Homo sapiens: one gene and its partners. The protein of the gene in region 2 interacts with the protein of the main gene of each other region in a pairwise test. Each region holds a gene or a part of one and is shown on either strand. Other genes may lie near its edges.

Evidence for each region.
Region 1: the proteins of MSRA (region 2) and CTNNA3 interact in binary tests that used the Homo sapiens proteins (3 or more experiments, as listed by UniProt).
Region 3: the proteins of MSRA (region 2) and HPCAL4 interact in binary tests that used the Homo sapiens proteins (3 or more experiments, as listed by UniProt).
Region 4: the proteins of MSRA (region 2) and SELENBP1 interact in binary tests that used the Homo sapiens proteins (3 or more experiments, as listed by UniProt).

The regions. Positions count from the first base shown.
Region 1 is NC_000010.11:67,686,196-67,693,230, reverse strand, and holds part of CTNNA3 (catenin alpha-3), read left to right. Parts: intron 1-7,035. UniProt on the Homo sapiens protein: May be involved in formation of stretch-resistant cell-cell adhesion complexes.
Region 2 is NC_000008.11:10,057,292-10,064,291, forward strand, and holds part of MSRA (mitochondrial peptide methionine sulfoxide reductase isoform a precursor), read left to right. Parts: intron 1-551; exon of another isoform or gene 552-6,209; intron 6,210-7,000. UniProt on the Homo sapiens protein: Has an important function as a repair enzyme for proteins that have been inactivated by oxidation. Catalyzes the reversible oxidation-reduction of methionine sulfoxide in proteins to methionine.
Region 3 is NC_000001.11:39,681,424-39,688,458, reverse strand, and holds part of HPCAL4 (hippocalcin-like protein 4), read left to right. Parts: intron 1-3,847; 5' UTR 3,848-3,855; coding exon 3,856-4,017; intron 4,018-4,306; coding exon 4,307-4,522; intron 4,523-5,725; coding exon 5,726-5,923; 3' UTR 5,924-7,035. UniProt on the Homo sapiens protein: May be involved in the calcium-dependent regulation of rhodopsin phosphorylation.
Region 4 is NC_000001.11:151,369,694-151,376,769, reverse strand, and holds the start of SELENBP1 (methanethiol oxidase), read left to right. Parts: upstream 1-4,064; 5' UTR 4,065-4,128; coding exon 4,129-4,132; intron 4,133-6,791; exon of another isoform or gene 6,792-6,870; coding exon of another isoform or gene 6,871-7,000; coding exon 7,001-7,057; intron 7,058-7,076. UniProt on the Homo sapiens protein: Catalyzes the oxidation of methanethiol, an organosulfur compound known to be produced in substantial amounts by gut bacteria. Selenium-binding protein which may be involved in the sensing of reactive xenobiotics in the cytoplasm.

The DNA of each region.
Region 1 (7,035 bases), on a different chromosome or scaffold from region 2:
AAGGTGAACAGGACTGTTAGCCGATACATCTGATTTTTCACATGCTTAAATACTGTTTTTAACCACATTATTTTTGCCTGGGATTCAGCGAGTAATCTGTAACCAATTTAATCACTAGCTTCTAGCATATGATAGGTGACTTTGAGTTCCTGTGTGCAAAATGGAAGATTAGGTCAAGTTTATTTGGCACCCTCCCCACCTCTTTTCTTTGCCTTTCATTATCCTAACCAGGATGATTTTCTGCTTCAGATGCCTCCTGGCAATGGGGAAATTGATTTGAAGGAGAAGGCAATGTTTAGTGCAAAGAAAGTCTCTCAAATACTGGAACTTGAACAATGGAGGCCCCTACTTTAAATTAGCACTGTTCAAAATGTAATTAGAAGTTCCCAATTTTTAACTAATCTATGAAACGAGATAAGAGGCTTGTGCCTGAAAGTAAATCAGCTACACCCTAAGCACTTTGTAGCAAGACTTTTTTTTTTTTTTTTTTTTTTATTGATCATTCTTGGGTGTTTCTCGCAGAGGGGGATTTGGCAGGGTCACAGGACAATAGTGGAGGGAAGGTCAGCAGATAAACAAGTGAACAAAGGTCTCTGGTTTTCCTAGGCAGAGGACCCTGCGGCCTTCCGCAGTGTTTGTGTCCCTGGGTACTTGAGATTAGGGAGTGGTGATGACTCTTAAGGAGCATGCTGCCTTCAAGCATCTGTTTAACAAAGCACATCTTGCACCGCCCTTAATCCATTCAACCCTGAGTGGATACAGCACATGTTTCAGAGAGCACAGGGTTGGGGGTAAGGTCACAGATCAACAGGATCCCAAGGCAGAAGAATTTTTCTTAGTACAGAACAAAATGAAAAGTCTCCCATGTCTACCTCTTTCTACACAGACACGGCAACCATCCGATTTCTCAATCTTTCCCCCACCTTTCCCCCCTTTCTATTCCACAAAACCGCCATTGTCATCATGGCCCGTTCTCAATGAGCTGTTGGGTACACCTCCCAGACGGGGTGGTGGCCGGGCAGAGGGGCTCCTCACTTCCCAGTAGGGGCGGCCGGGCAGAGGCACCCCTCACCTCCCAGAGGGGGCGGCTGGCCGGGCAGGGGGCTGACCCCCCACCTCCCTCCCGGAGGGGGCAGCTGGCCGGGCGGGGGGCTGACCCCCCCACCTCCCTCCCGGACGGGGCGGCTGGCCGGGCAGAGGGGCTCCTCACTTCCCAGTAGGGGCGGCCGGGCAGAGGCGCCCCTCACTTCCCGGATGGGGCGGCTGGCCGGGTGGGGGGCTGACCCCCCTACCTCCCTCCCTCCCGGACGGGGTGGCTGGCCGGGCGGGGGGCTGACCCCCCCACCTCCCTCCCGGACGGGGCAGCTGGCCAGGCAGAGGGGCTCCTCACTTCCCAGTAGGGGCGGCCGGGCAGAGGCGCCCCTCACCTCCTGGACGGGGCGGCTGGCCAGGCGGGGGGCTGACCCCCCCACCTCCCTCCCGGACGAGGTGGCTGCCGGGCGGAGACACTCCTCACTTCCCAGACGGGGTGGCTGCTGGGTGGAGGGGCTCCTCACTTCTCAGATGGGGCGGCTGCCGGGCGGAGGGGCTCCTCACTTCTCAGACGGGGCGGTTGCCAGGCAGAGGGTCTCCTCACTTCTCAGACGGGGCGACCGGGCAGAGACGCTCCTCACATCCCGGACGGGGCGGCAGGGCAGAGGTGCTCCCCACATCTCAGACGATGGGCGGCCGGGCAGAGACGCTCCTCACTTCCCAGATGTGATGGTGGCCGGGAAGAGGCGCTCCTCACTTCCTAGATGGGATGGCGGCCAGGCAGAGACGCTCCTCACTTTCCAGACTGGGCAGCCAGGCAGAGGGGCTCCTCACATCCCAGATGATGGGCGGCCAGGCGGAGATGCTCCTCACTTCCCAGACGGGGTGGTGGCCAGGCAGAGGCTGCAATCTCGGCACTTTGGGAGGCCAAGGCAGGCTGCTGGGAGGTGGAGGTTGTAGTGAGCCGAGATCATGCCACTGCACTCCAGCCTGGGCACCATTGAGCACTGAGTGAACGAGACTCCATCTGCAATCCCAGCACCTTGGGAGGCCGAGGCTGGTGGATCACTCGTGGTTGGGAGCTGGAGACCAGCCCGGCCGACACAGTGAAACCCCGTCTCCACCAAAAAAATACGAAAACCAGTCAGGCGTGGCGGCGCGCGCCTGCAATCGCAGGCACTCGGCAGGCTGAGGCAGGAGAATCAGGCAGGGAGGTTGCAGTGAGCCGAGATGGCAGCAGTACCGTCCAGCTTCGGCTCGGCATCAGAGGGAGACCGTGGAAAGAGAGGGAGAGGGAGACCGTGGGGAGAGGGAGACAGAGACGGAGAGGGAGAGGGAGAGGCTGTAGCAAGACTTTCTAGATGAAGGAAGCACTCATTAACTTACATTCTGGTACAAGCTCCTTTTCTCATCGCAGACCTGCAGTTTGAGTAGCGTTGCTTAAGTTACACTGTATAAACATTTATCTCCTCTTGAGAGGTGAAGCTGGCTAGGCTTCAGGGTCAGGTGGGGACTTGGAGAACTTTTCTGAATAGCTAAGGGATTGTAAATGCACCAATCAGTGCTCTGTGTCTAGTCTAGCTAAAGGTTTGTAAACGCACCAATCAGCACTCTGCAAAAATGCACCAATCAGCGCTCTGTGTCTAGCTAAAGGTTTGTAAATGCACCAATCAGGACTCTGTAAAAACAGAACCAGTCACTCTGTAAAATGGACCAATCAGCACTCTGTAAAATGGACCAATCAGCAGGACATGGTGGGGGCCAAATAAGAGAATAAAAGCTGGCTACCTGAGCCAGCAGTGGCAACCTGCTCGGGTCCCCTTCCACACTGTGGAAGCTTTGTTCTTTCACTCTTCATAATAAATCTTGCTGCTGCTCACTCTTTGGGTCCGCACTACCTTTATGAGCTGTAACACTCACCGTGAGGGTCTGTGGCTTCATTCCTGAAGTCAGCCAGATCATGAACCCACTGGGAGGAACAAACAACTCCAGACGTGCTGCCTTTAAGAGCCGTAACACTCACTGTGAAGGTCTGTGGCTTCACTCCTGAAGTCAGCAAGACCACGAACCCACCGGAAGGGAGTAACTCCGGACACATATGAACATCTGAAGGAATAAACTCCAGACACACCATCTTTAAGAGTGGTAACAGTCACCGTGGGGTCTGCGGCTTCATTCTTGAAGTCAGCGAGACCAAGAACCCACCAGAAGCAACCAATTCTGGACACATTTTGGCAACCCAGATGGGACTCTCGCCTATTGCCAAGTGATGAGTACCATCAGACCCCTTTTGCTTGCTATTCTGTCCTGTTTTTCCTTAGAATTCTGGGGGTAAATACTGGGCACCTGTCGGTCAGCTAAAAGCAACTAGCGCGGCCGCTGGACTAAAGACACAGGTGCCAGGCTTTCTGGGATAGGGCTCTCTAACAATCCCTGACTCTATGGAGTTGGGAATGTTGGTTTGCCTGGAGCCAGCTTCCACTTTAATGGTACTTCCAGGCTGAGCCGAGGGTTGACAGAGAGGAAAGCCATTCAGCTCCGGGGTCCCAACAACAAGTTGGTTGACCCTGCGGCCATGAGTGGAACTCTCAAAATCATGTCACCCAAGCGAGACTTGCCCATCTATCCTATCTCCTGACCCTTGCCTCCTGGGTCCTAATGCCTGTCAGACAAACTTCCTCTCGCCTCTCTTCTCTGAGGCTAGTCCACTTCTAAAAAGCACTCCCTGTCTCTGGTGCTTTTCTAGTTTCTCCTATAAGAATGATTTCTAGTATAAACTTCAGGACTCTTTTACCTTCTTTAGGCACCCGGGCTCACCAATCAGAAAGACATAATTTTTGCCCAAAGTCCCATCTGGGCAAGGGACTATCTGGAATTTTAGGATCCCTCTTCAGACAAGCAGGCCTAACAAAAGCTATTCCTGAAGCTAGGATATGGGGAGCTTCGGAAATGGTATCTTTCCTATTCATATAAGTGAGGACAAAAAGCATCACTCTTCCAACTCTGGAGATCCTTTCCCTCTCTCAGGGTATGTCCGTCCAGTTCATTTTTGGGGCATAACATCTTTATAGGACAGTGGTAAGGTCCCAATACTAACAGGATAATGCTTAGGACTCTAACAGCTTTTTGAGAATGCATCGGTAAGGGCCACTAAATCCAATTTTTCTTGGTCCTCTTTGTGGTCTAAGAGGACAGGCAAGAATGCAGGTTTTTGAGAATGCATCAGTAAGGGCCACTAAATCTGACCTTCCTCGGTCCTCTTTTTGGTCTAAGAGGAAAACTAGTGTTTCTGATGCTGCGTCGGTGAGCACAACTATTCTGATCAGCAGGGTCCAGGGACCGTTGCGGGTTCTTGGGCAAGAGGTGTTTCTGTTGCTGCATCAGTAAGTGCAACTATTCCAATCAGCAGGGTCCAGGGACTATTGTGGGTTCTTGGGGAGGGGTAGAAACAAACCAAGACCAAGGGTGGTTTTGTCTTTCAGATGGGAAACACTCAGGCATCAACAGGCTCACCCTTGAAATGCATCCTAAGCCATTGGGACCAATTTGACCTGCAAACCCTGAAAAAGAGGCAGCTAACTTTTTTCTGCACTATGGCCTGGCCCCAATATTCTCTCTCTGATGGGAAAGATGGCCACCTGAAGGAAGTATAAAGTACAATCCTATCCTGCAGCTTGACTTTTTCTGTAAGAAGGAAGGCAAATGGAGTGAAATACCTTATGTCCAAGCTTTCTTTTCATTGAAGGAGAATACACAACTATGCAAAACTTGCAATTTACATCCCACAGGAGGACCTCTCAGCTTACCTCCATATCCTAGCCTCCCTATAGCTCCCCTTCCTATTAATGATAAGCCTCCTCTAATCTCCCCCACCCAGAAGGAAACAAACAAAGAAATCTCCAAAGGACCACAAAAACCCCTGAGCTATCATTTATGTCCCCTTCAAGCTGTAGGGGGAGGGGAATTTGGCCCAACCCGGGTACATGTCCCCTTCTCCCTCTCTGATTTAAAGCAGATCAAGGCAGATCTGGGGAAGTTTTCAGATGATCCTGTTAGGTATATAGATGTCTTACAGGGTCTAGGGCAAACCTTTGACCTCACTTGGAGAGATATCATGCTATTAGGTCAAACTCTGGCCTTTAATGAAAAGAATGTGGCTTTAGTTGCAGCCCGAGAGTTTGGAGATACCTGGTATCTTAGTCAAGTAAATGATAGAATGACAGTCGAAGAAAGGGGCAAATTCCCTACTGGTCAGCAAGCCATCCCCAGTATGGATCCCCACTGGGACCTCGACTCAGATCATGGGGACTGGAGTTGCAAACATCTGTTGACCTGTGTTTTAGAAGGACTAAGGAGAATTAGGAAAAAGCCTGTGAATTATTCAATGATGTCCACCGTAACTCAGGGAAAGGAAGAAAATCCTTCTGCCTTCCTCGAACAGCTATGGGAGGCCTTAAGAAAATATACTCTCCTGTCACCCGACCCACTCGAGGGTCAATTGATTCTAAAAGATAAGTTTATTACCTAATCAGCCACAGATATCAGGAGAAAGCTCCAAAAGCGAGCCTTGCGCCCTGAACAAAATCTGGAGGCATTATTAAACCTGGCAACCTCGGTGTTCTATAATAGGGACCAAGAGAAACAGGCCCAAAAAGAAAAGCAAGATCAGAGAAAGGCCACAGCCTTAGTCATGGCCCTCAGACAAACAAACCTTGGTGGTTCAGAGAGGACAGAAAATAGAGCAGGTCAATCACCTGGTAGGGCTTGTATTCAGTATGGTTTGCAAGGACACTTTAAAAAAGATTGTCCTACTAGAAATAAGCTGCTCCCTCACCCATGTCCACTATGCGGAGGCAATCACTGGAAGGCTCACTGCCCCAGAGTACAATGGTTCTCTGGGCCAGAAGCCCCCAACCAGATGATCCAACAACAGGACTGAGGATGCCCGGGGCAAGTGCCAGCTCATGTCATCACCCTCACTGAGCCCCGGGTATGTTTAACCATTGAGGGCCAGGAAATTGATTTCCTCCTGGACACTGGCATGGCCTTCTCAGTGTTAATCTCCTGTCCTGGACAGCTGTCCTCAAGGTCCGTTACCATCTGAGGAATCCTGGGATGGCCTGTAACCAGGTATTTCTCCCACCTCCTCAGTTGTAACTGGGAGACTTTGCTCTTTTCACATGCCTTTCTTGTTGTGTCTGAAAGTCCCACACCCTTATTAGGGAGGGACATATTAGCCAAAGCTGGAGCTATTATCTATGAATATGGGGAACAAGTTACCCATTTGTTGTCCCCTGCTTGAGGAGGGAATCAACCCTGAAGTCTGGGCATTGGAAGGAACAAACTCAAGGTCCATCCTTAAGCCTTCCCACAGGACAAAACTTTTCTTTATACATCACAAAGAGAGCAGGAATAGCTCTTGGGGTCCTTACTCAGACTCATGGGACAACCCCACAATCAGTGACATACCTAAGTAAGGAAATTGATATAGTAGCAAAAGTCTGGCCTCACTGTTTACAGGTAGTTGTGGCGGTGGCTGTCTTAGTGTCAGAGGCTATCAAAATAATACAAGGAAAGGATCTCACTGTCTGGACTACTCACAATGTAAATGGCATACTAGGTGCCAAAGGAAGTTTATGGTTATCAGACAACCGCCTGCTTAGATACCAGGCGCTACTCCTTGAGGGACCAGTGCTTCAAGTGCATACATGTGTGGCCCTCAGCCCTGCCACTTTTCTACCAGAGGATGAGGAGCTGGTCAAGCATGGCTACCAACAGGTTATAGTCCAGACTTATGCCACCCAAGATGATCTCTTAGAAGTCCCCTTAGCTAATCCTGACCTTAACCTATATACCGATGAAAGTTCATTTGTGGAGAATGGGATACGAAGGGCAGGTTATGCCATAGTAACAGTACTTGAAACTAAGCCTCTTCCCCCAGGGACCAGCACCCAGTTAGCAGAACTAGTGGCACTTACCCAAGCCTTAGAACTGGGAAAGGGA
Region 2 (7,000 bases):
AGATGGTCTCATTGTGCTTCAGTGCCTGACCACCAAGCAATACTCTGAGAACTTGGGAATGAGGGACAAGGGGAATTCATACTTGTTGAAGTGTATTGGTATTGTATTGTTCAAAATAGGCTGCAGGTAGAAGGCTCATAATTAAAACCTCAGAGTGCCTTCCATTTTGTTAAGATGTGGGTTCCTTACAGTCAGAACTGATCTTATTTCCGGTGAATTATTGTAATTATTGTAAAAGTCCAATATGGTTTGGTTTTGTGTCCTCACGTAAATCTCATTTCGAATTGTAATTCCCACCTGTTGGAGGAGGGGCCTGGTGAGAGGTGATTGAAACATGCGGGGGGTGGACTTTCCCCTTGCTGTTCTCGTGAGAGTGAATGAATTCTCACGAGATCTGATTATTTAAAAGTGTGTAGCTTGCCCCTTTGCGCTCTCTCGTTCTCTCCTGCTCCTTTGTGTGGAGATGTGCCAGCTTCCTCTTCTGCCATGATTGTAAGTTTCCTGAGGCCTCCCTGGCCATGCTTTCTGTACAGGCTGTGAAACTGTGAGCTAATTAAACCTCTCTTCTTTATAAGTTACCTTGTCTCAGGTAGTTCTTTATAGCAGTGTGAAAACAGACTAACACAAAGGCCGTCTTTCATGTGGAACTTGTTTTTGCGTATTGGAAACATTGCTAATCTGTGTTTGGGAATGAATCTTACCTTTTTATAGAGTATCAGTGGGATCAGGTGTTTGGGATTTGGAGCTGTCCTTTAAAATAACTTTGACAAGTTTGATTCTATCTTGGCTTTCTTGCGTTTACATTCTTAGTGTTCATTGTATTTTTTTGTTACAGTGCTTTTTTTGGGCACTAACATGTTAAAAACAGATGTAGAGCACCATCAGAAGGTATTCTCTTTTAAGAACTTTAAATAGAAAAAAACAGTAGAACAATGTATTAATCCAAAAGGTGGCTCTTTGAAAAAAAATTGAACTACACTAATGACATTTGTAAACAATGAGGTAGTCTCAAGAAAAAGATGAAAGTACAAATATACAAAATAAGTCCTGAGAAGAGGAGATCATAAAAACAGATAATTTGAAGAATGTTAGGAGACTACTGAACTCTTTTAAAATAAACTTTAAAACTTTGATGAAAATGATAATTTTTAGGAAAATATAAGTAATCCAGATTGACCCCAGAAGAGGTAGAAAATTTAAGCAGGTTGATTTTTATAGAAGAAATAAAGCTATGAAAGAGTTACCTCCTCTCAAAGCATTGTCTAGTTTCACCAAGATTATCTACCAAATATTTAAAGAGCAGATAATTCCAGAGCAGGAATAAATGGCTATTTCCTTGACATAGCATATCTATTTGAACCCAAAAGCCCATTTTAGGCTTAATGAAGAAACGTTGAGATTTCCACTGATGTTCAGACCAAGACGAGGAGTGAGAACAGCCTAGTACCTTTTACAGTGTGCACTGTTAGCAAAATTTTGGTGTTATCTTAGTTTTAATCCCACCTTTAAAAATAAATTCTACCTTTTTTGTATTAAGGAAACTTCCACCTTTTTATTAAGTGTGATCTAGTCGTTGATTTATACTTTGTAAGAAGGTAAGATTCAAACCTTTAAACTTCTTAATGTTTAATTTCTCCCAGGCCACCTAAATTGGATTATAACATGAATTGGCCTACTTTGAATGATAGATTATTATTTTACATTGTAGGTACAGCCAGTGTGATCAGACAAAGCAATTCGAGAACTACAAAAGAGGAAAAAAGATCAGAAGTTCTTAAATACATAAGGGAATGCAGCATTTGATAAAGGTGGTATCTCAAGTCAGTGGGGAAAAGGTGAAATATTCAATAAATGGTATTGGGACAACTGGGTAGCCATATGGAAAAAAAGGTTGGATCTCTACACCGTAAGCCAGGATAAATTTCAGTGTTTGATGGAATAAATTCCAGATATATGATGATAATAGCTCACACTTGTTAAGTGTCTTGTATGCCAGGCACTGTAGTAATTTACTAATGCATTTAATCCTTACGGTAACCCAAAGAAGTAGTAACTGTTATCACCACTTATAGATGTGGAAACTGAGGCCCATAGATGTTAGGCAGTTTAAACAACATACATTGCTAATAAGTAGTGGAGCTGGGATATGAACGTAGTCAGTTTGGCTATAGAGTTTCTGGCCTTAACTCCTATACTCTTTTTCCATTTAGGTTATTGTTAAAAATGAAACAGTATGAGAACAGAATGTTTTTATAATCTGGGTGTGAGGAAAGCCATGACTTAACCATGACTTGAAAATCGGAAAACGTAAGACTGATAAATTAGATTATATCACAGTAAAAAGACTGATAAATTAGATCATATCACAGTAAAATTCTTCTGCATGGCAAAAATCATCATAAGCAAAGCCAAAAGACAAACGATGGTAAATAGTTGCAATTCATATCATAGGTGAAGGACCAATCTTTTTAATTATATAAGAAGCTTCTAGAAATAAAAACACCAACATCCATTGGCAAGGTAGACGTTAGGTTATGAACAGACCGTTTACAGAAAAGTACAATTGGCTTTTAAGCATATAAAAAGATGCTCAACTTCACTTATAATGAGAATGCAAATACCATTTTTCATGTTTCAGACTGGCAGAAATCCAGAACTTTGACGATACACTGTGTTGGTAAATTCTTAAGGAAAAATACACTCTTGTACATGGCTGGCAAGAGTATAAATTGGCTCAACTCCTATGGAAGGCAATTTGGTTGTATCTATCAAAAATTCAAATGCATATACCTTTTGACCCAGGAATTCAATTTATGGGAATTTATCGTCTGGACATAACTGCTATGCATGCCAAATGATGACTGCACCAGGTTATTCACTACAGCTTTGTTTGCAATAGCACAAGACTGGAAACAACCCAGGTGCCTATCAGTAGTGGCTAGTTACATAAATTACAGTTCATTGTCACAATGGATATGCAGCTGTAAAAAAGAATGTGGAACATCTGTGTGAATGGGTATGGAGGGATTGCCAAGATGTAGCATTAAGTGAAAAAAGCAAGGTCTCAACAGTGTATATATACAGTATGCTAACTTTTCTGTGAACAGAAGGGAAAATAATATGTATAGAGAAACTTTGAAAGGATAGCTAAGAAATTAATGGCTGAGGAGGGGGCTGTGTAATGAGGATGGATGGAAGACATAGACTTTTGATGCTTTTTTGTAACTTGCTTCTTGTAATGTGACTGCATTTGTGAATTACATAACTCCACTTTGAAGATGATCTGTCTCGCTGTTTTTAGTCTAATTGACCACCTTTCTGTCATCTTTTGTCATACTTACTTGAAGTTTTTTTTTTTTTCAATTTTGCTCTTTCTTGTCAAGTACATCTTTTTTCTGCAACTTGCTTTTGTAATCAAAATCTACATTTTGGCGTGATTGAAAAATCAAAATTTAGAGAGTGAAATCGGAATAAGTTAATCCAAGTCATTTTACATTTCATAAATATTCATTTTTATTGAAGCATCAATTGTGATGGCATCATTTATACAAAGAACAGATCTTTGAGGACAAATTCCTTCCACTATTATGTAGAAGGCATTATGTGTATTTCTTGTATTGTGAGTGATGTACGTTGATTTTTAAAAGAAAATGATAGAAAACAGTTTTCCTTTTAGAAAAGTTTTCCCCAATGTGTGATTAATTTCTAAATTGTAGGATACAGAATTGTTATTTCCCCTCTTTGCATCCTGCCCAGAGCTCTTTGATTTTACAACCTGTTCCAGAACGTTTAGTGTTTCCCTGAAGTCCCTGGGATGAGGGTATTCTGTACCTCCCACAATGTGATCCTTACCTGCTTTCCCAGTCTTTTTCTCCACTGTGTCCCTGTAGAACCCCATCTTCTGCCTAATGTGTTTCACTTTTCTGCCTCTGTATTGCTCACACGACCATACCCATAGCGTGGATTGCACACTTGGATCTTTTTACTTAGTCATTCATTAAATGTCTATTAAAGGCCTGCTTAGGAAAGACCTGTATTGTCCATATATCCTTATCTTCAAGGAAGCATCCTTGAAATTTGCCCTGCTCTAATTCCCCTTCTCCCGGAAACCCATCCTTTTTCTCTCCAACCTAAGTGATCTCCTTCTTCTCTACTGGACAAATAGCTATGTACTACTTTATGAATCCTTTCTATGGCATCTTGCGTTGCTAATTAGATGTCTTATTGCACGGAACTCGCACAATCTGTCTCATCTCCCCACGTAGTGAGCTCACAGCACTTCACCAAGAGTGCTGCCCACCAAGAACTCACAGCACTTCACCAAGAGTGCAGTCAATAGTGTTTTATGAACGTTGGGAAGAATATGGTTAATGCCTGAGAACAAAGACCAGAAATGTCATCTTTTCGTGTGACCATCATGATACAGAGAAGTTAACAGAGCTGCCCCATTGTCCATGGGGCATGTTCCGAGTTTTTCCAGTAGTGGTGATAGATTTTGGCTGATTTCTCTGAACTTTTCCCTGAGTTATTTTTGTGACTTTGGCCAGGATGAAGGGTGGGGAACCCCTCATCTTTAAATCTCTGAGCAGAGACTTGCTAGGCATCTGCAGCAGTGGTGGGGAAGAGGTCATTAAGCTCAGTGCAGTCCACGTGGGGCCTTGGCCTGCGATCTTCAGGCTCAGGAGTTATTGTGAGCCCCTGCGTTGGGTGGGGGAAGGGAGGAAAGGAGGACAGCTGAGGCAAGGAGTGGGAGCCTGGCTGGGGGAGGAGACATCAGCCTGGGGCATGGGTCTTATGAGGGTGAGTGGCCGCCAGGCCCTCAGCAAGGACCAGAGTGGAAGCCTCTTTGCTAAGCTTGGTCTGGCTCCTGCATGGGTCCCAGCAGCGTGCCATCAATCATCCGTTCCTCCTTGGCAGATGGCCAGGCTCCTTCCCATGCAGCAGCAGCAGCAGCTGGCTGGCCCTGCCCTCCTGTTTCAGCTGACATCGGCAACCCTCTGGGGATGTATGGAAGACTGAATTCTACAAGAGATGCTTTCAGGATGTCAGTGCATGATGAATGAAAGTTGTGGATCTTCTACATGCTGCTCTTATCTTCCTCACATCATAAACTCCAAGTTTGAGAGCATCACAATATTCATCGATATGTAGCACTACACAATGAACTGAGGGCAGGAATTGACTTACTCTTTGTACCCGGAACACAGTAAGCTGATGATAAATACTTGTTGAAAGACTGTAGCATATAACCTGTTGAGTTGTTTGAGAGGCCAGGGTTCCTCTGAGCAGTATCATGCCAACAGACACACGCATGTTATGTATTATGGCACATAATCGGTAAGTCCATAACTGTTGGAGTAATGGGGACGAGCATAGTGCACTGAAGGGTACAGGAAGCATCGGGGTTTGGGGGCTCCGGCCTACATTTGTGGTTATGTTACTGGTTTTTCCTATCGCATCAGAAAACTTTATTAACTAGATGGAATTTCTGCAGCCAGATGAAAATGTATGTGATAGGAGTGGATCGTGTGATAGGAGTGGATCGTGTTAGCTGCGTGAGATTGCTAGTGAGGCACTGAGTTGTCATCAGGTAGCAATTCCACCATTTCCACTGGAATTCCTTAGCACATTTTAAGCTAAAAGAGGTAAGAAGTCAGAAGGGTAAGAGTCTGGCCATGGCTTTGCTTTCTTCTCTCACGCTTCCAACCACCCTCGTCTGAAAGCTACATTTCACCTTGTGAAAGTTCTGCCCTTCTGTTTCCAAATACGAGATGCTGTAAGCCTGAACTCAGATCTAAAACCAAACTTAGCATTTTGTTTCCAAAAGATTGACTACATATTTTAATTTCCCAACCTCTCTCAGTGGCACTGCTCTCCTCTCAAATCCCAGAAGCCGCAGTCAGGGTCATCTTTGAGCCTTACCTCTACATTTGAGTTGTCCTTCCTCCCATGAGTCCCGATGACTTCTTTTCTTCATTGGTCTCTGATCTGTCTTCACTCTCCCCTGCCTGAGCTGTTCAGAGCATTATCAACATCTACCTAAAATTTGAATTTCATTCTCTCACTGTTTAGGGAACAGCAGCGACTTGGACCTGTCCAATGACACTCTTCAATGCTGGACACTTGCTGTAATTTGCTGCTGGCCTCAGTGTTTCAGATCTCCACTTCCACCCCGAGGCTGGCTCCTGCTCTGAGCTCCTTCCTTGCAGGTTGCTATGGTCTGAATGCCTATGTGCCCCTACTGAATTCATGTTGAAATCCTCACCCCCCCAGGTGATGGGGGATTAGGAGGTGGGGGCTTTGGGAGGTGATTAGTCATGAGGGTGGAACACGCATGAGTGGGATTAGTGCCCTTGTAAAAGAGACCCCAGATAACTAGCTAGTCTTTTCGGCCATGTGAGGACATGGTGAGAAGGCGCTGTCCGTGAACCAGAATTTGGGCTCTCACCAGACACTGAACCTGCTAGCGCTTTGATCTTGGACTTCCAGTCTCCAGTATTGTGAGAAAGAAGCTCCTATTATTGATAAGCTGCCAGGTTATGGTAAATTGTTATAGCAGTCTGGCGGACTGAGACACAGGATGTTTTTTCCTTGCAGCCCTGTCTAAAACATCTTGGGGCTTTCAAGGCTAAACTTGGCTTCTTCCACTTCTCTGCCGCCCCTTGGGGCTGTTTCAGCTTAGATTGCTCTTAGAGTTGGAGCTGGAACTAGGGCTTTGGGGCTCTGTTTTGTGCTTTCATTCCAGTGTCTCTCCTTGGGGAGATGAAGGTAGAATCCCTTTCCTGTATTTGGTGCTTGGTGGTAGTCATTTCCCCCGCTGTGTTTTCGGAACTCCTAGCCTGGTTATAGAAGCTGCTGGCATGATCAGAGTTCTCAGATTCCAGCTGCTTTCTCCTGGATATCCTATCAAAATGCCCTCTCCGTTCAGTGAGATACTCGATGACTTTGACTCATGATGCCAAATGATTGATTTTTCCTTCACCAGAGACCTGCGTGTCCT
Region 3 (7,035 bases), on a different chromosome or scaffold from region 2:
TACCAAGAGCATTTCAAAATAAGAGACAACAGGACTTGATGGCAAGTTAGACCTAGGGCAAAGGGAAGGGAAAAAATGAAGGTAACTAAGATTGTGTTCCCCACACCCCGGGGATGAGGGAGAGAAGGAAGGGGCAACAGAGACAGTCTGACCATCTCTGGTTGGGAGCGAGTCTGGCTGTAGACTTGCTGTCTCAGAGGTGCTGGTGGACACCCCTAGGGTGGCTATCTCCTGGGTGTCAGAGATTGTGGCCCCAGATGGTTCCACTGCGGCCAAAAGGGAGATCAGAGCTCTGATTTTCCCAGAGGGCAGATGTGGGTGGAGAAGGTCTGTGCTGAACAAGAGTAGCCATGATTTGGAGACGGTGGCCCAGGCAGGTAGCACGGATTCAGCCTGAGTGCTCATCTGGGCCCTCCCACTGACCTGCTGTGTAACCCTGAGCCAGTTTTCTCCTATCTCTCAATTTCCATTTTCACTGAAATAAGGGGATGATCTTAAAGGGCACGGCCAGTTTTGACCTTCTTTTCTTAATTTTTTATTTACTTATTTTTTTTTTGAGACAGGGTCTTGCTCTGTTGCCCAGGCTCGAGTGCAGTGGCTCAATCACGGCTCACTGCAGCCTCAACCTCCTGGGCTCAAGTGATCCTCCCACCTCAGCTTCTGAGCAGCTGGGACTACAGGCACATGCTACCATGTCTGGCTAATTTTTAAATTTTATGTAGAAACAGGGTTTCCTTATCTTGCCCAGGCTCAGCTTTGACCTTCTGATGATCTAGAGGGAATGAGGAGAAATAAAGGAGGAGGCATAGTCTGGGTCTGAGACCCAATAAAAGCAGGGAACAGGAAGGACCCTAGGAGACAGAGAATTGTGGAGAAGGCAGCACAGAGCAGGGAGGAGAAAAGGGGTATAAGGTGAGAGCCACACAGACACTGTGACACACACAGAGAGACGTGTGCACTCTGACAGATTTGCAGCCTCAGACATTGACATGCTCCCACACACAGACCCAGCCCCTCATGCTGACTCTCAGGCACATCCTACGGAAGACAGCTGGAGAGGCTGTGCCTCCCCCCATCAGACATCTCTGCCTGACTTCTCCAGCTTCCTTGACTATACCCTGAGCCTTGAGAGTCCTTTGGATTTGGGAGAGGGGTGAGGCCTGCCTCCTTTTGCCTATGGGTGTTCCAGAGGCATCCTTGCTCTGGCCTCAGTGTAGCCATTTTCCGCCCAGCCTCAGGTTCCTGAAGATGGCATGCTCCCCCTCCCTGGCTTTTCCTGAGGGCATACAATTCCTCATCCTCTGGGAGTGGGGAAGGATGTTGCTACCTGCACTGCTCCTTGGTCTTCCTTATGGCCCAGTGGAGGAATCTGAGGCCCAGAGAGGATCTGTAACTAGCCTGAGGTCAGCCCAGCAAAGGGGAGTGGGAAGGAATGGACCAACCTCAGATTTGCTATTTAGTGTTTTCCCAGTTGTAAGAATTAGAAGCCCACTGGCAGACATCGGGCTATGGGAGTGGAATTCCTTCTGCCAGCCCAAGGGCTTCCTTTTCCAGAGTATCTTGAGGACAGGCTACCTGGGGTGGGAGCCTGACCCTCTTCCAAAGAGACTCTAGGCAGGTCAGAGGCACCTCCCAAGCCATGTCCTGGGAAACCCAGACTCTGCAGGGACATTCCTCCCAGGGAGGTCAGAGAGGAGGGTCCACTCTGCCTTCAAGGTCTGGCCACACTTCCTGAGGAGGGCCTGTACCTCTTCAAACACTTCCCCTGGCACAGCCCACTTACGGGCTCACATTCCCACTGGGGAATAACTCTTGATCCTTCCCAAACCTGCTTCTCAGCAACAACACTTCTATCCACTGAGGCTCAAATCTGAGCCTCTGCCTCAACTCCTCTGTTCCTCTTACTCCCACATCCAATCAACTGCAAAGTCCTGCCAGTGCCCTTCTTAACGTCTCAGCCCATCCACGTCTCTCCACGACCCTTACTCTGGCAGCATTGTCTCTCACCTGAACCGTGTAGCAGGCCCCTCCCTGCTCTACCTACCTGCCCCCACCAAAGGTCATCTTGCATGCTGTGGCCAAAGGAAAAATTCTTTTTTTTCTTTTTTGAGACAGGGCCTTTCTTTATCGCCCAGGCTGTAGTACAGTGGTGCCATCTCAGCTCACTGCAACCCCTGCCTCCCAGGCTCAAGTGATCCTCCCATCTTAGCCTCCCAAGTATCTGGGACTACAGGCATGCACCACCACACTCAGTGAATTTTTTTTTTTTTTTTTTTTTGAGACGGAGTCTCACTCTGTCGCCCAGGCTGGAGTGCAGTGGAGCGATCTCGGCTCACCGCAAGCTCCGCCTCTGGGGTTGATGCCATTCTCCTGCCTCAGCCTCCCAAGTAGCTGGGACTACTGGCGCCCGCCACCATGCCTGGCTAATTTTTTGTATTTTTAGTAGAGATGGGGTTTCACTGTGTTAGCCAGGATGGTCTTGATCTCCTGACCTCGTGATCCACCTGCCTCAGCCTCTCAAAGTGCTGGGATTACAGGCGTGAGCCACTGCGCCCGGCCAATATATTTTTTTTTTTTTTGAGGTGGAGTCTCACTGTGTCACCCAGGTTGGAGTGCAGTGGCGCGATCTCAGCTCACTGCATGCTCTCCCTCCTGGGTTGACGCCATTCTCCTGCCTCAGCCTCCCGAGTAGCTGGGACTACAGGCGCCTGCCACGACGCCCAGCTAATTTTTTTGTATTTGTAGTAGAGACAGGGTTTCACCGTGTTAGCCAGGATGGTCTTGATCACCTGACTTCGTGATCCACCCACCTTGGCCTCCCAAAGTGCTGGGATTACAGGTGTGAGCCACCGTGCCCGGCCGCGCCCAGCCAAATTTTTAAATTTTTTGTAGAGACTAGGTGTCACTGTATTGCCTAGGCTGGTCTCAAACTCCTGGCCTCAAGCTGTCCTCTCATCTCAGCCTCCCAAGGTACTGGGATTATAGGCATGAAATACGGTGCCCAGCCTGGAAAAATTTTAAAACACATACCTTTTCTTGGGTCCCCAGTGACTCGTTCAAGACTGGGTATATCATAAGCATTCTGTAAATATTGTGGAATGAATGCAATCTTCCCAGCCCTTGTTTTAAAAAATCCCAGGAGCGTCTGTTCCCTCCAATTTCTTGGCATGGATTGGAGGCCCTTTGTAACCAACCATCTGCCTCTTTGACCCAGTTACAAGTTATTGAAGGTTGGCTCATGTCTGCTTCATCTCCATCACTGGCACAGGGCCTAGCACACAGTCAGTCTCAATAAATGCTCAGGGAATGAATGGATTAATGAAAAGCCAAATGTCAGTAGAGGATTTCTATTTGTATAGAGGAAAGAGGGAGAGAAGCTCCCTGCTGGGGTGGCCCAAGAAAGCCTTGAGGAAGAAATTGGGAGACAGTGCCAAGGGGACACACAAGGAACCTACCTTGGGTCCCTTCTCAGGACAGAAGCCTGCCAAGGAGGGTGGGGGCTGACTTCAGAAAGCCCTAAATGGCAAGGAGAGGAGTCAAGGCCTTAGTCTGTGGGCAGGGGAGCCATGAAAGGTGTGAGCAGGAGGGGAGAGGATGAAGACTGTGGCGTGCTGCACGGTCAGTGAGGAGGAGAGCTGAGACCTGGAAGGCGGGAGACCCCCGGGGCTAGGAGAAGAAACCTACCTGAATGCAGGTGTTGTGAGGGGAGAGGAGGCCCCATTATGGGGGAGTGTCATGAGGGGAAGGAACCTGCAACCCCGCCCTGTGTGTGGCAGGGGAGGGGGCAGCTGTGGCTGAGGCAGGGCCTTTCCCTGGACCCAGTCGGAGGAATCCCTCTGTCCCACAGGCCCCGCCATGGGGAAGACCAACAGCAAGCTGGCCCCCGAGGTGCTGGAGGACCTTGTTCAGAACACTGAGTTCAGCGAGCAGGAGCTGAAGCAGTGGTACAAGGGCTTCCTGAAGGACTGCCCCAGCGGCATCCTCAACCTGGAGGAGTTTCAGCAGCTCTACATCAAGGTGGGCGGCCGGCACCTGGTGTGAGGGAGCCAAGTACCCGGGTTGGGGGAGGCGAGGAACCGGGGGTGAGGGAGGCAGGGCACCCTGGGATGAGAAGAGGCGAGGCACCCGGGGTGGGAGGGGAGGCGAGGCACCCGGGGTGCGGGGGAGGTGAGGCACCCGGGGTGGCGGGGGCAAGGCACCCGGGGTGGGAGGAGGCGAGGCACCCGGGGTGCAGGGGAGGTTCCCTGAGATGGGGGCGGGGTGGGCGGGGCTGTCGCTGCGCCCCAACCCACCGCACCCCCCTCAGTTCTTCCCCTACGGCGACGCCTCCAAGTTCGCGCAGCACGCTTTCCGCACCTTCGACAAGAACGGCGACGGCACCATCGACTTCCGGGAGTTCATCTGCGCCCTGTCGGTCACCTCCCGCGGCAGCTTCGAGCAGAAGCTCAACTGGGCCTTTGAGATGTACGACCTGGACGGCGACGGGCGCATCACGCGCCTGGAGATGCTGGAGATCATCGAGGTGCGGGGCCGCGCGGGCGCTGCTGTTCCCGAGGCCAGCGCTTCGCCATCCCCGCCCCTGCCTCCGCGCTGCTCTCGGGCTTCGGGGCCTCCCTGCTGCTCCCCAGCCTGCGATCCCGCCTCCTACCACCCCGCTACAGGCCCGGGCTAAATGCTTTACCCGACACTCGACGGGGCGGAGGGGTTGGTTACTGTCCCAAACCCCATTTGGCAGAGGAGGAAACGGCCGGGTTCCTGATTCCAATCCAGGGAGTCTGACCTCATAGCTGATGTTTTCAACTCATTCTGTCAACAGGCAGGGATTGAGCGCCTGCCAGTTCTTGCTTTCATGGGGCATTCCTTCTAGTGAGAAATTTTTTTAAAAAATAAATGAATGAAGACATGCGGGGTCAGGCCGTAGGTGCTATGAGGAAGATACACTAAGCAAAGTGCAGGGAGAGCGCGTGATGGAGAAGTTACTTTATATAAGATGGAAAGTTAGCAGCAGCCTGAATGGGGTGAGGCCTTTACTGCAAGATGCCTGGGGGAAAGCGTTCCATGCTGAGGGGCAATTAAGGCAGGTCGGCCTTTCTCTGCAGAGTTCAAGGAGGGGCCAGGAGGCCCGGTGGTGGGAGAGCCATGAGAGGGAGAGAGTGATAGGAAGGTGGTCATACGGGGAGCCAGGAGCCCCATCAGTAAGGTCTCCACGGAGTTGGGCTTCTGGCATGTTTCATCCACATAAATATTATTTAGTCTAAATAAAAAATTAGTTGAGGGCTGGGCGTGGTGGCTCACGCCTGTAATCCTAGCACTTTGGGAGGGTGAGGCCGGTGGATTACCTGAGGTAATGAGTTCGAGACCAACCCGGTCAACATGGTGAAACCCCGTCTCTACTAAAAATACAAAAATTAGCGGGACGTGTTGGTGCATGCCTGTAATCCCAGCTACTCAGGAGGCTGAAGCAGGAAAATCACTTGAACCCAGGAGGCAGAGGTTGCAGTAAGCCGAGATCGCGCCATTGCACTCCATCCTGGGCAACAAGATCGAAACTCTGTTTCAAAAAAAAAAAGAGTTGCTCATTAAATATCCAGTCTTAATGACCACATATACCTTCCAGTATCCTCACCAACCCCCAGTGTTCTCCCTGCCAGATCCCTTTCCTTCACCCGCTGCTTCTCGGGGCCCCTTGTGGGTGTTCACACCTCCCTCCTCCTTCCCTCACCAGGCAATCTACAAGATGGTGGGCACCGTGATCATGATGCGCATGAACCAGGACGGGCTCACGCCCCAGCAGCGTGTGGACAAGATCTTCAAGAAGATGGACCAGGATAAGGACGACCAGATTACATTGGAGGAGTTCAAGGAGGCAGCCAAGAGTGACCCATCCATTGTGTTGCTGCTGCAGTGTGACATGCAGAAGTAGAAGCTGGTGAGGGGCAGGGTCCCTGGCCAGAAGGGGCATGGCCACCTCCCAACCTGATGACCTCTCTGGCTGGCCTCCCAGGAGGAGGGACACTCCAGCCCCCCTCTCTGGCCCACCCAGTCCTCTGCCCAAGCCCTTCCTCCCCTCCATCAAGATCTTTGAGGGACCACCTCACCCTGCAAAAGAGACAGGTCCTCCAGTACCCTGTCTTCTAGCCCCACCTCCCACTTGGCCAGAACCAATGTCCATTGGGCATAGGGGAGTTGGCTTTTGCCCCAGGAGGTGAGGTTAAGGAGTTGGGGGCCTGGGGTTCTGGTTAGGAATTCTCTTGATCCTGGGATTATGCTTTATAGGATGTGGTCCCACAGGCCTGTCACAGGGCCAAATTGGGTCTGTCCATTCCTGAGGCTCCAGATCCCATAAAGGGGGTCTCTTCCCCATCCCTTCTACTCTACCTGGCCCTTCCAGCCCCAGCCTTTGGAGCGTTCATTCAGTCCTTTCTTCAGCTAATGATTACTGAGCACCTGTTTGGTGCTAAGGATATGGTCATTTACAAGACACATCTTGTGCCCTCTGGAAGCTCATAGGGTTGTGAGGCAAACTTCCAGCCGTCAGGGTCTCAGCTAAGCAGAAGGTGCTGGAAGGCTGGTTAGTCTGGGAGGAGCTATTTCATCTTCCAGCTCAGCTCCACACAAAGCTGCAGAAGGACGAAATGAAAAGCATTTGGAAGTTTAGGAGCCACGTGAGTGAAAGTTTTAAGAAAAATGAAATTTATGTCATACTTATTTTTTTAGTACCCTTTAAAGGAGCTACAGTCATTTTATTATTTCAGGAGGTTAAAATATACTCTATATTACTTGGTTTCTTATAAAATGATTAAATGAATAGAGAAAATATTAATTTTCAAGGGGAAAAAACCTGAGAAGAAAGGGAGAAAAGACCATGAAATTTACCAGATAACACTTTTTAAGACTAAGTCCTGAGCTGCCACTCTCAGCAGTTTTTGCTGCTTCAGCTCTTCCTTTTTATTACCTTTTTCAATTCAACAAGCAACTTTCTGCTACATACTTACTCCGGTTGGGTGCTGACTTCAGGGACAGGAAAAAGCAAGG
Region 4 (7,076 bases), on a different chromosome or scaffold from region 2:
CTGTTTATTCTTCCTTCTCTTTAAGCAATAGAGGTAAGGAGTCAAGACGATAACATTTGCTTTTTAAACACCTTCTGTCCCCAACCTTAGCATCTCCCTGGATATGATAGGCCCCCAGCCACTCTTCAGTGCTGCCCACTGGGACACAGGCTTCTGATAAAACTGAGTGGCGCTGCAGTACTAGGAGCTTAAAGGGTTACCACTCCAGAGACATTCACTGTAGCCAGGAGGTGAGAAGAGGCCATCTGGTAGTAACACAAAGAAATAAACTGCTATTGGTGAAGTTTCAAGCATCAATGGCAGGCCAAAGGGAGGATATTTCTGAGTGGATTGGCAGTGAGGAGAAAGTCCTCCAAGTGGTTCTCAAATCATGCTTTTTATAGACAGCCCTGGCAGAGGGCATTAAAAAAAATTATTTCAGCCGGGCGCGGTGGCTCACGCCTGTAATCCCAGCACTTTGGGAGGCCGAGGCAGGCAGATCACGAGGTCAGGAGATAGAGACCATCCTGGCTAACACGGTGAAACCCCGTCTCTACTAAAAATATGAAAAATTAGCCAGGCGTGGTGGCAGGCACCTGTAGTCCCAGCTACTCGAGAGGCTGAGGCATGAGGATGGCGTGAACCTAGGACATGGAACATGCAGTGAGCCAAGACCTTGCCACTGCACTCCAGCCTGGGTGACAGAGTGACGTTCCGTCTCAAAAAAAAAAATTATTTCTCTTCTCTGAGCCATGTTATTACCCTGAGCAGCAGGCTTTGAACTCACTGTCATTCAGAAACAGTGCATTAAGTGTGGGCAACGGAGTGAATTGGGAAAACTCTGTTTCCTGAATGTAAGATGAAGAAAAAGGCATTTACAGGCCAGACACGGTGGCTCACACCTGTAATCCCAGCACTTTGGGAGGCCAATGCGGGTAGATCACAAGGTCAGGAGTTTGAGACCAGCCTGGCCATATGGTGAAACCCCATCTCTATTAAAAAGTACAAAAATTAGCTGGGCGTGGTAGCATGCGCCTGTAGTCCCAGCTACTCAGGAGGCTGAGGCAGGAGAATCACTGGAACCTGGGAGGCGGAGGTTGCAGTGAACAGAGATCACGCCACTGCACTCCAGCCTGGCGACAGAGGGAGACTCTGTCTCAAAAAAAAAAAAAGAAAAGAAAGAAAAAGAAAAAGGCATTTAACCTCTCCAGCTGTGCCATGGGCGGAACCTGAGCTAATTGTTAGTGTGTAGGGCCCGGCATGGCGCCCGTCACCTCTAGTAGCAGGTTCTCAGTAAACGCTACTCCCTTCACATCTCCTACACATCCCTGAGGGTATGGAGTTGGTCTGTTAATATAAGGAGAAATGAGCAGAACAGGGCTCTGAAACTCTACTTAGCTGGTGAAAACTCCAACCTCTCCAGCCAGTCCTGCCTCAGACCTCCATGGGCTGCTACCTTTATGCCTTACAGGCATTTTGTGCACGTTTGTGCTTTTTGGTTTGTTTGTTTTAGTTCTTTTGTACTGTTTGTTTGCATATAATTCTGTACCCATACATACCAAGCAACCCCACCTAATGCTGCATCACCCCTACATTACCCTACTCCTTCACAGCACTTATCTGAAGTGATTTTATTTATTTGTGTATTTGCATGATTATCAGTCATCTCCCCTAAAAAGTCATCTCCATGAAGGTAGCAACTTTGCCCTGTTCACCACTTTGTCTACCATATCTGGCTCAAAAGAGGTGCTCCAGAGGGAAGGATAGGCAGCTGGTTGGGAGAGCTGTAGCTCAAAAGGGACCGGGGCCAGTCCTTCTCCCCAGCATGGGCCCTCACTGTGGCCCTCACCTGCACTGCATGTGACCTTCCATCCTTCCTTTCATCTTCCTTATAGTTTTTCTTTTAATATATTTATTTGAGCTTTTAGTTACAAAAGCAGTACTTATTATTTTTTTAAAAATCCAAAATTAACTTTGGGAGACCAAGGCAGATCACTTGAGCCCAAGAGTCTGAGACCAGTCTGGGCAACATAGTGAGACCCCCCATCTCTACAAAAAAAATTTAAAAATTATCCAGGTCAGCCAGGCACGGTGTCTCAGGCCTGTAATCCCAGCACTTTGGGAGGCGGAGGTGGGTGGATCACTTGAGGTCAGGAGTTCGAGACCAGCCTGTCCAACATGGTGAAACCCCGTCTCTACTAAAAATACAAAAATGAGCCAGGTATGGTTGTGGGCACCTGTAGTCCCAGCTACTCGGGAGGCTGAGGCAGGAGAATCGCCCCTCTACCTTTACTGCCTCCCTCTGTAGCCCAGATTAGGATAACTTCCCCAACCACCTGCTGGCTGTAGAGCAAGAGTTCAGGGAGAAAACCACAGGCAGAGGTGAGGGGTGCCATGGAGTTGCTGCAGAGACCAGCCAGGTCAGAGCTCAGGAGCATGAAAGAGGTAGTCAATGACAGACCACAACAAACAAAATAACAGCCTTTTTTTTTTTAAGTTAATGACTCAATAATTTTTTATGAGAAGGTGGGGATAAAGTTTCTTTCTCTTTCAGATCTTGGGTGGTGGACTAACCCAAGCCAAGAAGCCGGAGAATAGAGAGGAGGCAGGAGATGGAGACCTCAGGAGGAGGAAGAGGGGAGGGCCAGAGGGAAGGGTGAAGGCAGGGTGAGTGGAGGTAGTCAGGACAGGAGGAAGCTGGCAAAGACAAGGAAGCAGCCTTCAGGGCCTTCCCCGTGGGGCAGCTGCACACACAAGACTCTCTTTGATGCCTGGCAGGCTGATGGCACAATGGTGAGGATAATAGATGCAGGATGGAGCCAAGAGGGGTTGAGTGGCGCTGGGGATAAGAGAAGACCCTTGCCCCGGGCAGCCACAGGGAGTCTTCCTTGATGGGCACATGATCCCTCACTGATGGGAGCCAGGAAGACAGATACCCAATGCACCAAGGCCCAATTTTGCTCCCCTTCCCCCACTCTGGTTTGGAAACCCTGTATTCTACTTGCAATCTCAAGCCCAGACTTTATTCTTTTTCCTAGCCAATAAAAACTTCACCCCAGAGCTTTTATCCAAAGAGTATGAATATCTGGAATAAGAGGGCAATCTTAGGGAAGAAGTGACCCTGGCTGATGGGCCCACAGTCCCGGGTGCCCCTAAATGCTAAGAGACAGGTCCAAATACAAAGACGAGCATTTGGAGACACAGGAACACATACGTGCGCAGGCTTACACAAGCACATGCACAGCCACATAGCCACACACTACACATACACAAGCACTTATGCACATGTCCACACAGGCGTAGATACTCTAGCAAGCACATACTCACAGAGGCGCGCACACACACACACACACACACACAGGCGTAGATACTCTGGTAGGCACATACAGAGGCGCGCACACACACACACGCACAAATACACACAAGCACACTCACAGGCACATTCACACACGTGGAAATTCACACACAGGCACAGATACACACTCATGCAGGCACGTGCACGAGCAACACGCAGGTATACAGGAACACACACATGCCCAGACACACAAATCCACACACACCCAGGCACCCACTAAAGAGCACGAGCTGGTCAGGGGCAGCGGCTCACACCTGTGATCCCAGCACTTTGGGAGGCCGACACGGGTGGATCACCTGAGGTCAGGAGTTTGAGACCAGCCTGGCCAACATGGTGAAATCCCTTCTCTACTAAAAATACAAAATTGCTGGGCATGGTGGTGGGTGCCTGTAATCCCAGCTACTCGGGAGGATGAGGCAGGAGAATCACTTGAACCCAGGAGGCAGAGGTTGCAGTGAGCCGAGATCGCACCACTGCACTCCAGCCTGGGCAAGAGTGAGACCCTGTCTCTAAATAAATAAATAAATAAATAAAGCACAGGCTCCCACACATACACACTTAAACACATACACGCACACCCCATAATTCAAACACCAGTTGCCCTAGGCCACTTGAGAGTATCCTGGCCAGCTGCCCTGAGTAGTTTACTCTGGGCTACAGCCCGGGCCCTCCTCCTTCTCTGCCCCACCCCCAGCTGGTTGTATAAATTCCCTCCCTTCGCTCCTTCCCCGGAACAGCGGCCTCTGACACCAGCACAGCAAACCCGCCGGGATCAAAGTGTACCAGTCGGCAGCATGGGTAAGGAGAGGGGTTTCCAATCACCCATTGCCTGCTCTGTCTGCCCCTAATTTGGAAGGCCCTCCTCCAGAAAATGCTAGAAAACCTGAGTGGGGAGCTGGGGAGGGAGTAGTGGACTCTGCTTCATTGTCCCCAGTCTGCACACCCCCTCCCCCACCACCCCACTGCATTTCCCAGCTCAGCCAAACTTTCTGAGGAAGACGGGCAGAGGCACTGCTGGGAGATGGGATCCTGGGCCCTGACTTGGCTCCATCCAGCAGAGGCTGGGACCAGGGTGCCTTTCTGCAGCTGGGAAAATCAGATGGGCGCTCTTAGAAAACACCACTAGGTCCCTGGCCCTCACATAGTAGAGAGGTGATCCTGATTTCAGCCATGGGCCAACTTTGTACTCCAGCGAGGTAGGGAGTCCAAAGCCTTTCTGTGCCCAGGTCACTCTCTAGCTACTCCACACAGCAAAGCTCTCTGGGAGGGAAATCAGAGACCCCCACACTCTTTCACTGGGGACCTGTTTCAATGCCTCCCCCACCCCTAAATCCCCCTTGGCCCTGCTATTCCTCCATCTGTAGGCTTCTGGGTGACAGGCTAAGAAGGAACTGAGGTTTGGTTGGGAGGTCCTTCCCCGCTCGGGGCTGGCTCTTGAGCTGGCAGAATGCCGAGCTGGCAGAATGCCCAGCAGCCAGCCTGACATGGAAAACCCACTTGAGCTTTCCATGAGTCCATCCCAAACCCAAAGCTGCTCCGAGACCTTGCTTGAGATGTTTCAGATGGGGGTATTCCCCAGAAAGAGGAATGATGCTCCCTGGGGCTGCAGTGGCATGCCAGGCCTGACCCTAAGAAATGCTGGGGCTGGGGTTGCTGGGGTGTGGGGTGGGCCGAGGCTGCAGAGCGGGCAGCTCCATCTCTGCACTTTTACTTCCCTCTCAGCTTCTCCCTAGCTTTGTATTTTTTGTATCTCTGTCTTGAGGTCTTGGAGTTTTAAAATCTCCTTTCCCTTCTGTATCCAGCAACCTCCTTCCCCACCCCCTGTCATCTGGTGCCAAGCCCCGACTTAGCAAGATTGTGTAACAGAACCAGTCTCCTTAACTCCTGTGAACTGGACCTCTCTCTCTCTCCCTGCCCCACCTCCAGCCCTCTCGCTGGGCATCGAGCACTCCCTGGCATTCTCCTCTCCTCTGGCACAGCCCTTCCCATATTTACACAGTAATTCATTATTTTTTTTTTTTTTTAGTCAGAATTTCACTCTTGTTGCCCAGGCTGGAGTGACTGCAGTGGCGTGATTTCGGCTTACTGCAGCCTCCACCTCCCAGGTTCAAGTGATTCTCCTGCCTCAGCCTCCCAAGTAGCTGGGATTACAGGTGTATGCCTGTATTTTTTAATACAGGCTAATTTTTAATACAGGGTAATTTTTGTATTTTTAATAGAGACAGGGTTTTGCCATGTTAGTGAGGCTGGTCTCAAACTCCTGACCTTAGGTGATCTTTCCGCCTCAGCCTCCCAAAGTGCTGGGATTACAGGCATGAGCCACCGCACCCGGCCTAATTCATTTTTATGAAAGGCCTTTGGAATACATTGTCTTATTTGTCCTCCATATCTACCTAGCAAAGTAGGTAGAATATCATTATTGCCCACTTTTCGTAAATGAAGAGGAGAAAATGGAGAAACGGGGCGTCAAAACTGGGACTTGAAACCAGGTTTCCAGACTCTGAACGCTGTTGCTGCCTCTCAGCTTCCTAAGTCTCTTGGCTGCTGCGAGTGGGAGTCCCAGGCCCCAGTGGAGGCCCCACTCTGCCTACTCCTGGCTCCCCACTTGCGGCCCAGCTGTGAAGGCAGAGGCTGGACTGGCCACAGGACAAGGCAGGAGACAGGGCCCAGGCCTGTGGACTCCACTCCAGGGTTTCTTTCAGCCTGCCACCCCCTCTGGGTATTCTTTAACCCCTGCTCCCCAGCAGGCCCCAAACTCTGATGCTGGGGTGCTGGTAGCTGTGATGTCCCAGCCCTACTGCACATCTGCTGACTTACATCCTGGAGATTAGCATGGCCCCTCTTGCCAGACTTCAGAGATAGGGAGGGTTGCTCCCTATCTCTCTGGTGGGCAGGCCTCTGGGCTCTCCAGAGTTGGGCCAAACACCTTACTTTACAGATAAAGGAAGTGGGGCACACCCAGGGGTAGAAACCAGCCTGAGGACTTCCAGTTGGTATTAGCCCCAGACCCTCGGTTATGTAATCCAGCCCTTGGCTAGCAGCCTGGGATCAGGACCCAGGGGAGAGAAAAGCAGGAAGTGGCCTCCCCCTGATATAGAAGCATCTTGGTGAAGGGAGCTGAGCAGGCGCCACCCCACTCCCTGAGAGCAGCTCCTCAAGAACAGCCAAGGGTGCCTGGGCTTCGACCAGACAAACACAGAGCTGCACACCTACTGCACCCTCGTGTTTACTTCTCGTAAAAGCCCACTGTGAAATTCTTACCATCTCCATTTTACAGAGGATGCAGAAATTGAGGTCGAGGAGCTTCAGTACTTTGCCCAAGCTCCCCTGGCTAGTCAGTGGTGGGCTGGGGTTGGGCCCCGAGTCCGTGTCATATTCACTACACCACACGACCCCGGCTGCATCAGCCCTCCTCCCACCCTCCCGGGGCCCTGCTGGACTGTCTGTCCACCTTCAGGTCATGTGTCTCCAGCTCTTCCCAGCACAACCTCACCCTCCTCAGGGCTCTGAGGGGGCGGAGAGGACAGGCCAGAGCGATGAGGCTGGAGTGGGGACCTAGGCCAGCCGCACTGCCGTGGCCCGCTGGGATGTGTGCTGCAGAACGTGCGGAGGGAGCCTTCACCCTCCAGAGCGTGGCCCAGCCAATGCGCCCCATTGCTTCCACAGCTACGAAATGTGGGAATTGTGGACCCGGCTACTCCACCCCTCTGGAGGCCATGAAAGGTAATTGCCCATGGTCTGA